Regions from separate parts of the Homo sapiens genome. Here region 1 is linked to region 2. Evidence: fine-mapped expression QTL. Tissue or cell type: whole blood. Region 2 holds a variant in brackets; the other region holds the start of a gene. All regions are shown on one strand. Distances are from middle to middle.

Region 1 (5,000 bases), 66 kb before region 2:
GGCTTTGAGGCCAAGTCAGGACTTCTTCATCCTCAGTGCTGCAGCTGCCTGTGTCCCCAGCACCACACCACTGTGGGGTTCATTGTGCCTTTTAACAGCCTCCATGCCAGACTGTGCCCTCCACAAGGGCCTGGACCAAACTTGTCTTTTCCTCTGCTGTATTTCCAGGGCCCAGCACACGCTGAGCACATGGTAGGCCCCCATCTCTGCTGAACTAATGAAACCCCAGGACCCCAAAGTGATGACCACTGCTGTGTACTTCTATCACGTGATATACTGAATATGACCATTATCTTGCATATAAGAATGGCTAATACTTACTGAGTGCTTACAATGTGCTGAGCACTGTTTTAATTATTAGCTTTGCATATGTTAATTCATTTCATCCTCACAAAAACTCTATGAGGCAGGTATATTTACCATTCCCACTTTACAGACGAGGAAACAGAGCTAGATGTTGGGTAGCTTGCTCAAGATCACACGGCTAGGAAGTGGCACAGCCAGGAGGAGATGGTTTACAAAATGTTTGCAAGAGGATGTCTGGTGGGAGCTCACAATCAAGCACCCTTGAAAGCAAGTATTTCTGCTTTACTTTAGCCGGGATACTGAGGCTCAAAGAGGTCTCCCAGTAAACTGGAGGCAGGACCCAGTCTTAACCCAGGGCACTTGCGTTTTTTTTTTTTTTTTTGTAGAGATGAGGTCTCGCTATTTGCCCAAGCTGGTCTCCAACTCCTGGGCTCAAGTGATCCTCCCACCTCAGCCTTCCAAAGTGCTGGGATTACAGGCGATGAGCTACCACTCCTGGCCTAGACATCTGCCTCTCAAAGTGTGAGGACTGTGGGTAGTATAGTAGCTAAGACCACAGCCTAGATTTGAATCCTGGCTCTGTCTGCACTCTGTACCTCGGCATCCTTTTCTATAAGATGTGGGAAAAAATGGTATGTGTCTTAGAAGGTATGAAGCTCAAATGAGAAAATCCATTTTAGGGGTTTGGCTTGGTGCCTGGCTCACAGTAAACCAGAAACACCAAGTATTAGCTACAAACAAGCCTTGTTTCCTCTTGGCTGTCAGGCACTGCTGCTCGCGGTCCTTGCCTCCACCCACGCCGTCCAGCCGGGTCCATACCTGAGAACGGCTGCCGCGGTCCGAGCTTTGCCCCACGCCAGAGTCATCGGCCTCTGCCTGCCCCGGGGCGGCCGCGGCGTCGCTGCTGTCGGCGGACACGGCTTCTGAGGTGCCCACACCCAGGCCGCTCTCAGAGGGCTCCTCGGGCCGGCCAGGCCCAGGGGCCGCGTCGCTGCTGCTCTCCACCTCGTTCTCCTCCATCTGATCGGCGGGCTGCCTGACAGCGGGGCGTAGGGTCTGGGAACTTCACTCTGAGAAGAGAGGTGACCGTGGCTGGAACAAGTGGGCCATCTCCCCAGCCCCGGCAACCACGGCCACCCATTTGCACCCCTGCGCCCATTTTGCAGATGCGAAGATTGAGTCTCCGACGGGGCGGAGCTTCCTGGTGTATTGCGAGGGGAGCTCGGGAAAAACTTGACGGAGAAGCTGTGCTTCCCAGGCTAAGGCCCTTCCCGGGAGGGTGGTCAATGGCTGGTAATCTTGACCCTTTCCCTCGCCCCCACGATTCTCGTGGAGCGTTCCGCTCTGTGAGCCCCATCCGGGCCCAGTGGTTCAGCCCTTCGGCCCCCGCGTCCCCCCGGGTTGCAGGGCCGGTGGTACAGCCCGCTGGCCCCCTGGGTCAGTGGTTCGCTCCCCCCCGGTTCCCCTGCGGAGGCGGCTGACAGCGACGGTCTCGGGGCCTGGCGATTTGGGGCTGTCCCCGGCGCTGCCTGTGCTCCAGGCCCGACGCCATCTTGTGGTGGCGCCGGGTTTCCGCTCAGGCAAGTGCGAGAGCGACTAAAGGGCCTGGGACCCCGGGGCCCTGTTCGGACAGCCCCGCCGGCCTGGGACCTCGCCTCCGGGTATCCCCGCAGTGTGACCTCACTCCACGGCAGGGTACGGTGGGGCCGCCTAACTCTACCCGAAGCTCACCCGAGGCTTTCGTAGCCACGTTCCTCTCTGACTCCGGCATCGACGAGGTCGCCATCCTCTTTCCTCCGCTGCGGAGGAACCCATCGGCCTATTGTAGGCCGGAACTACTTCCCCCGCTGGCCCCGGGAAAGACACATTTTCAGTGTTCCGGAAGGTCGCTCCGAGGCCTCAAAACCATAATCGGGTCTCAACAGACTCTGGGACTTTATACGTCGCCCGGTGTTTGGCACTGAGCCCACTATGGTTTGGGGACTACTTTATCTCGGCGGAGTGTTACGTAGGAAGTGGTTGTGACGTCATTCTGGTCCCTTCCCTAGGCCGCAGGGTTGGGCGCGGCGAATGCGCGCCCCGCTCTCTTGGGGCGTGGCTCCCAGTGGGGGGCGTGGCTCCCGGTGGCTTGGCCGCGCCCCTCCTACAACAGCCCGGAAGAGCGTGTGGCCGCGGGCGACTTTGGCTTGGCCAAAGAGGAATTCATGTTGTCAGTCATTTTACCTGACTCATTACTTATTACTTAGCGCGCTGCTGCAACCCAATCGAGCTCTGCCCGTTAGGTTTGATGTGTTTTGTTGGGAAGGGAATGTATAATTATTGTACAGATAGGGAAACTGAGGTCTGGGTATGGGAAGGGCTGGTCCAAAATCACATCCAATAAAGGGACTCAGGAGCTAAGTACGGATGGCAGGAGTCGGGGAAATGGAAAGAAGTTAATGCTTGTCCCTTAGGTTTGTATACATATTTGTTAACATTAATAGAGCTGAGGCCGGGCGCTGTGAGTCACGCCTGTAATTCCAACACTTTGGGACGCCAAGGCAGGAGAATCGCTTGATCCCAGGAGTTCCAAACCAGCCTGGGCAAAAGAGCGAGACCCCATCTCTACAAAAAAAAGAAAAAAAAGAAAAATTAGCCAGGCATGGTGGCGCGTGCCTATAATCCCAGTTGCTCGGGAGGCTGAGGTGGGAGGATCGCTTGAGTCTGGGAGGTTGAGGCTGCAGCGAACCGTGATCACACCACTGCACTTCAGCCTGGGCGACAGAGCGAGACCCTCTTTCAAAAAATAAATAAATACAAGTCAACTACCTATCCTTTAAAAGTGGAGAAAGAAAAAAAATTTTAATTAAAAGTCAGCTGCCCTTAAGGTATGTCCTTCCTCCGGAAATGTCACCTTCTGTTTTAAGACTTTTAGCAGTTTGCAGTGGAAGAGCACAAGAGGGAGTAAGGCGCTCTGGTTTTTGTCCCTAAGTCTCTGTAGTTCCATAGGCTATTTTCCTTAATTGAAAGATACAAATTTTGGGGGAAAAAAATCTCAAAAAAACTCCTAAGCAGGCTGGGCGCGGTGGCTCACGCCTGTAATCTCAGCACTTTGGGAAGCTGAGTCGGGCGGATCACCTGAGGTTGGGAGTTTGAGACCAGCCTGATCAACATGGAGAAACCCCATCTGTACGAAAAATACAAAAGCAGCTGGGCGTGGTGGCGCATGCCGTAATCCCAGCTATTCAGGAGGCTGAGCCAGGACAATAGCTTGAACCCGGGAGGCAGAGGTTGCGGTGAGCCGAGATCACGCCATTGCCTTCCAGCCTGGGGAACAACAGCGGAAACTCTTGTCTCAAACAAACAAACAAAAAGTCCTAAGGAGAAGACCTATTAATAAGGAGAAAAGGTCCGGGCTCGGTGGGTCACACCTGTAATAACCAGCACTTTGGGAGGCTGAGGCCGGTGGATCACTTGAGGTCAGGAGTTCGAGACCAGCCTGGCCAACATGGTGAAACTGTCTCTACTAAAAATACAAAATTTCACTGGGTGTGGTGGCGCGCGCCTGTAGTCCCAGCTACTCGAGAGGCTGAGGCAGGAGAATCGCTTGAAGCCCAGAGGCGGAGGTTGCCGAGATTGTGCCATTGCGACAAGAGAGAAACTCCGCTTCAAAAAATAAATAAATAAATAAAAATAAAAAGGACAAAGGGTGCTTTGAGCTGTTATTTGTGTGCACTTGTGTATGAGGGGATTCATCTGGTCCTTTTCTTAGGTAAAGTTTTCTTTCCTAGGTTTCCCTTTTGGGTTGAGGGAATGGAACAGGAGGCCTCTGGATAGGTTAGGACCCTCATCCCCTATCCCTTGCAACCAGCAGGACCAGGCCCCAGAGCAGCTCTGAAGAGCTAGGTCAGCACTGGCATGATGACATGTTGGTTTTACTATCTCCAGGCAGTTTTCCCGTGTGGACCCCATTCCTCAGCCCTACAGAAGCATCTGCCCCCTCATGCCAGTAGGGTAGTAGGGTGCATCCTACATCTGACCAAGTCACCTCTCCCAAGTTTGGGGTACTCCGAAGTAGCCCCACAGTACCCTCATTCCCTTCCCCACTAAGACTGAAGCCTCCTAGGAGGTAGAGTCTGCAGTGAACTATGAGTGCGCCACTGCACTCTGGCTTTGGTGAGAGAGTGAGACCCTGTCTATTAAAAAGAAAAAAAAAAGACTCAACCTTAATCCTGGCCTTTGCCACAGCATCACAAGATTGCAGAATGTCATGGTACAGATGAAACAGACTCATCATGAAACCGAAGAGGAGCCCAAGGCCCAGAGGGGGAAAGCTAACAGCCCAAGGTCTCGGCTCCTTGGAAACAACATACCAGAACCCTTCCATCACAAAGACAAGCAGGCAAATCCTTGTATTCTGCCTGTGAATCCAGGGTTTGTTCCTCCAGAGAGTGCAGTCTAGTTCTGGTCTCAGCTTTATTTTTTTGTTTTCTCTTTAAAATTTGTTTTATCTTTTAAAAAATTGTTTATAAAGATGGGGACTAGCTATTTTGCCCAGGCTGGTCTCGAACTCCATGGCCCCAGCTTAGAGAGACTTATGGAAGCAGTGAAGGGGCTCTGGGTCAGAGGACATTAAAGTGGACCATTGAGAAAAATGTAGAAGAGCCAAGAGGGAAAGAGGAGGGAAGATGCCAGGCAGTGTGTGTGCTTTCTGA
Region 2 (5,772 bases):
GACACCAGCCCTATGGTGTCCTCCTTGCTCAGTGGCCTGGCCAACTACACCAACCTGCCCCAGGGAAGTAGGGAGCATGAAGAGGCAGAAAACAATGAGGGTGGAAAAAAGAAGCCGGTGCAGGTGAGGACCTCGGGGGATGAGAAATGGAAGAAAAGGGACGGATGGGGGGTGGGGGAGGATGGGGGAGGAAAATGGATTTGAATGGAGGGAGGGAAAGGGGATACAAATCAGAAAGAAGAGGGATGAAGGGTTGAGAATAGAGAGAAGAGGAAGGTGGGGGCAGAGAAACATGGAGGAGGAGCACACCTGGGGTGTTCGTAATGATGAGGACTGCAGAGACTGATGCTGGCCTCCCTGGCAGGCCCCACGCATGGGCACCTTCATGGGCGTGTACCTGCCGTGCCTGCAGAACATCTTTGGCGTCATCCTCTTCCTGCGGCTCACCTGGGTGGTGGGCATTGCAGGCATCATGGAGTCCTTCTGCATGGTGTTCATCTGCTGCTCCTGTGTGAGTGACACCCCTCCCCTCACCACCCCCTGACAGCTGGGGCTTGGCAGAGGCCTGGGGGTGGGAGGTGGGAGGATGGAAGCATGAGACCTGAGCTTTTTATAGGAACCACTGCTTATGATCTTTGAGAGTAAATTAGGCCTGACTGGTCCTTCCTGCATCTCACAGGCTTGTCCTTGATGGCTGTTAACCAGGTTTCACCTGGATCTCTCTGTGTGTAATTACACAAGTGATGCAGCTCATTGATGGAAATGATAAGGGTAGGGAAGAAAATAAAATTCACCTATAATCTTACAATAGTTAACATTTTGGCAGGTCCAGACTCACAAAAATGAGATTACATGTCACAAACAGCATTGTAACCAAATTCTTCCCATTCTCTCTAAAAAAATCAAATATTCGCCAAACACCTACTTCTTGATATATTTACATGTCCTCGTACATAACCTTGAGACAGCTCTGCATGTGAGGTACGCAGTGTCGGAGCTGTTACTCCTATTCTATAGATGGAGAAACTGAGGCTTGGAGAAGTGAAGTGAGTTGTCTCAGGTCAGGCAGCTGGTCTGAGACCAGGCTGGGATTTCCAGAGCTCTCTGATGCTGTGGCTTGCTTGGGCTCCTTCCGTTCGCATGGTGAATAAGGTTTTCTTGAGAAGAAGGACTTGGCAGGAGTAGAAGTTGGAACAGGTCCAGGGAGCAGCTCAGCAGAAGAGAACCTGTGGGTTTGGCTGGTGTTTATGGGGTATAAGGCTTGGCCCCCACCCAGGCCACTGCGGCCCCTACCCCAGCCACCGCTCTGATGATCTCTTTCCTCACAGACGATGCTCACGGCCATCTCCATGAGTGCAATTGCAACGAATGGTGTTGTGCCTGGTAGGTGACTGGGGCTTTGTGGGGAGGGAGGATGGCTGGGTGGAAGGAGGGATAGTGCCCTGGGCTTTGGGGGACATCAAGGCCCAAGAGAGATAATATTCTAGACTAGGGGGCTGGGCTGTATCTGTTTTCAGCCCTATTGGGGGCAGAGGAGGAGGCAGCTCTCGGTGTTGAATAGGGCAGCCCTCCCCCAACTCATCCTGAGACCCTCCTCTCCACCATCCAATTTTCTGAGCCATGACCTCCTTAAAGGGGTAATTAGCAACATGGTAATTAGTGCTGCAAAATCCATGCAGAGTGGTTGCTTGGGTCTCTCACCAGTCCCCTTTCTAGGGCTGCAGCCCATAAGCCTGTGAGGCCTGGAGCAACCCCCTTCTGCCTCTGTCACTGAACACCCCTCACCCCTTACGGCAGCCCAGTGCCCCCGACCCTCTCGCTGATACCAGATTCTCCCTGCAGCTGGTGGCTCCTACTACATGATTTCCAGGTCTCTGGGCCCAGAGTTTGGGGGTGCCGTGGGCCTCTGCTTCTACCTGGGCACTACCTTTGCAGGAGCCATGTACATCCTGGGCACCATCGAAATCCTGCTGGTAAGAGAGGCTGAGGAGGAGGTGTGGAACCCCAGGTTGTCAGTCAGTTAATCAGTGCTCCCTGGACACCTCCTATAGGCCAGGCCATTCAGTGAGGCCAAAAATGTGGTTCAGTAAGGCCAAAGTCAGATGTGGTTCTGTTTCTAAAGAGTTCACAGTCTAGTTGGGGAGACAAGATACAATAATTATGTAACATACACAGCTGTCGTTTATCAGGCCCCCACTGAGCTCTCAGCATCCTTCCAAGTGCTTTCCAGCCATTCTCTTGTATCCTTACGAGGTTTAAGTATTATGATGCCCATTTTACAAATGAGAAGCTCAGAGAGGTGAGATAACTTCCTCAAGGTCACTCAGCTCTCAGATAGGCGGCAGAGGTGGGTTGATGAGTTAAAATATGGTAGAAATAAAAACAGTAATGTTATGCAGCAGCTACCATTGTGTGATTGCCTCCCAAGGGGCA[T/C]GGACTGTGCTAGGTACTCTATGATGTTAATGGTAGATGGCTGGTGGCTATTGGATTGCAAAAGAGAAGAACCAGGGGAGGGATCCGTATAAAGACATCTGTTGGGAATAGTGACTGATGGAGAGAAACCAGGTTGCTGGGCAGTGCTTGAAGTCAGGACTGGTGACTTAGGTCTCCATCCTTCATCCCCTTCCTGTAGGGCATGGGTGCTGAAGAGGTGTCCCTGGTGGATAGGAAGTAGAGCTGACATGTCCCAAGCCCCTACTCTGTGCAGGCCCCAAGGCTTGAAGTATATCATTTTATTTTATCGTCATGACTCTCTCATGAGTTAAAGGTGGCCATTTTATTTTATTTTATTTTTTATTTCTTTTGAGACAGAGTCTCACTCTGTTGCCCAGGCTGGAGGGCAGTGGTGCAGTCACTGACAGCCTCGACTTCCCAGGTTCAAATGATCCCCCCCACCAGTTCAGCCTCCCAAGTAGCTGGTAAGCACCACCATGCCCAGCTAATTTTTGTATTTTTTTGTAGATAGGGGTCTCACTATGTTGCTCAGGCTGGTCTCAAACTCCTGAGTTTAAAATGATCCTCCCACCTCAGCCTCCCAAAGTGTTGGGATGACAGGCGTGAGCCACTGCACCTGGCTAAAAGGTGGCCATTTTACAGATGAGGAAAGCAAGGCTCAGAGTTTAAGGAACGAATGGAAGGAATATGAACCTTGGTCTTTCTGACTTCCAGAGCCTTACACAAGTGATGCAGCTTCATTGATGAAAATGATAAGGGTAGAGAAGAAAATAAAATTCACCTATAATCTTACAATAGTTAACATATGGTAGGTCCAGACTCACAAAAAATGAGATTACATGTCACAAACAGCATTGTAACTGAATTCTTCCCATTCTCTCTAAAAAATCAAATATTCACCAAACGCCTACTTCTTGATACATTTACGTGTCCTCTATACCACACTGCCTTGGAAACCTAGAACTAGAAGGTGTCACAGCAATTAGTGTCACGGCAGGATGGAAGAGGGTAGGACAGGGAGGATGGATGGGGCATGAAAGGCCTGAGGAGGCAAATGATGAGGGAGAATAGACCTCCATGACTTCTAAAAATTAAAATATTTGAAAATTGTTGTAAATGCAATTCTGCCCATTGCAGAAAATTGGGGGAATATCCAAGTCATGAAAAAATGTAAAGAAGGAAATAAGTCACCCAAAGAAAATAACCATTAACATTTTGGTGTATTGCCTTCTAGTTTTTGTTTTTCTATGTGGTATTGTATTCTGTCTATGTAAAATATAACCCTATACCTAAGCAACTCATATTCTCTTTGTATATATTATTTGCAGTGAAAATAACTCTTGGAAGAATGTAAACGTTAATATTTAGCATGGGAATTTTAGAAAATACAGATGTGCATAAAGAATAGATTATCCACATTTTTTACGATTCAGGGAAAACTACTGACAACATTTTGATGTACTTATGAAAACACATACAGACGTATACTAATATACGTATATATCTTCACATACACATTTATAAAAATGAGATAATGAGACATATTCTTTTTCAAAAACCTGATTGTGTTCACCTAATGTACCATGGATAGCTTTTAAAGTCAGTCCATATAAATCTATGTCATCTGGCCGGGCACAGTGGCTCATGCCTGTAATCCCAGAACTTTGGGAGGCCGAGGCAGTTGGATCACCTGAGGTCAGGAGTTCGAGACCAGCCTGACTGATACGGTGAAACCCCGTCTCTACTAAAAATACAAAAATTAGCCAGGGGTGGTGGTGGGCACCTCTAATCCCAGCTACTCGGGAGGCTGAGGCAGGAGAATCACTTGAACCCAGGAGGTGGAGGTTGCAGTGAGCCAAGATCGTGCCACTGCACTCCAGCCTGGGCAACAAGAACAAAACTTTATTTCAAAAAAAAAACAAAAAAACCACCACCACAATAAAAAACCAACAACAACAATAAAAAACCAACTACATCATCTTTTTTAATAGCTCCATAGTCTGTGGGGATATCATGATTTATTCACCCAACCTCGAGTGATGAACATTTATTTCCACCTTTCTATTAGAAATTATTAAAATGATAAATAATTATTAAGAATTATAATTAACAAAAATAACAGAAGTAATTGCTTCCAGCATCCTTGCAATGTCATTTTTTAAAAAATGTATTTTTATTTGTTTTTGAGATGGGGTCACATTATGTTGCCTAGGCTGGTATTGAAATCCTGGCTTCAAGTGATCCTCCCACCTTGGCCTCTCAAAACACTGGGATCACAGGTGTGAGCCACCATGCCTGGCCTTATAATGTCATTTTTAAATGGCTGCATCATAGTCCTTGCAGGACAGGCCATGCCTTCTTTAGCGATTCTCCTATTACTGGATGTCTTTTCCAGTCTGGTACCACTGTGACTGTGCTGTGATGAGCATCTTTTTTCCTAAAGCGCTGCATGTAGTGCAAAGGGCTGCTGACTTAGGTATCTGTTCTTCCTGCCCCTTTCCCACAGGCTTACCTCTTCCCAGCCATGGCCATCTTCAAGGCAGAAGATGCCAGTGGGGAGGCAGCAGCCATGCTGAACAACATGCGTGTTTACGGCACCTGTGTGCTCACCTGCATGGCCACTGTGGTGTTTGTGGGTGTCAAGTATGTCAACAAGTTTGCCCTTGTCTTCCTGGGTTGTGTCATCCTCTCCATCCTGGCCATCTATGCTGGGGTCATCAAGTCTGCCTTCGACCCACCCAACTTCCCGTGAGTGCTGCTGCTCTGAGCCCAAGGAATCGTCCTCCTACCTCCCTGGCCCTGTTTCAGAGTCTCTGCCAAACTCCCCCTCCCTGCCCCTCAGAATCTCAGAGTGGTGTGGGTTGGGAGTAGCTTCCCTTGGGAGGGAAAATCTCTCTTAGTTTGGGGGCAATCTCTTCAGAGTGAGGTAACTTTTCTGGAGGAGGGAACAATTTACCTTGTAAGAGTCAACTTCTTGCTGGTAGGGTGGACTTAGGAAGAATTAAGTGGGAATGAGTTCCAAAGCAATGAATGCTGTCTGTGGTAGGGAAACCTTTCCTGGGTGGGGACAACCTCCTGGAATGGGACAATCTCCTAGTGTTGGACAACTCCTCCAGGATGGGAAAAGACACAGAAGTCTACAGGGTCCAGGGACTCAGATCCAAGTCCACTCCATCCACTGCTCAGAGGTGGAGGGCGGCCCCCGAGACCGCTGTCCACGGTGCTGAAACACAGCATTGCACTAATGCGGTGCTTCTCCACCTTGGCTGCTTATTAGAATCACTTGGGGAGCTTAAGAAAAAAAAAAAAAAGCCAATG

What was found. PIP is the estimated chance that this variant, and not a neighbour inherited with it, causes the effect.
Region 1: it holds the start of ZNF335, and the variant in region 2 is fine-mapped to the expression of ZNF335 in whole blood (TOPMed, PIP above 0.99).

What each region holds. Positions count from the first base shown.
Region 1 is chr20:45,970,085-45,975,084 of GRCh38, forward strand. It overlaps ZNF335 (zinc finger protein 335), which reads right to left and starts at 2,119. Exons shown (of 28, transcript NM_022095.4): 1 at 2,038-2,119; 2 at 1,126-1,376. The coding sequence starts at 1,326. RefSeq lists a silencer at 1,631-1,750 and an enhancer at 2,521-2,740.
Region 2 is chr20:46,035,413-46,041,184 of GRCh38, forward strand. It overlaps SLC12A5 (solute carrier family 12 member 5), which reads left to right. Exons shown (of 26, transcript NM_020708.5): 3 at 1-123; 4 at 365-511; 5 at 1,329-1,383; 6 at 1,843-1,973; 7 at 4,961-5,202. Among named protein-coding and RNA genes, the nearest start is that of SLC12A5, 9.1 kb to the left of the region's middle. RefSeq lists silencers at 5,498-5,772, 5,575-5,772. The variant T/C (reference allele first, on the strand shown) is at 2,434.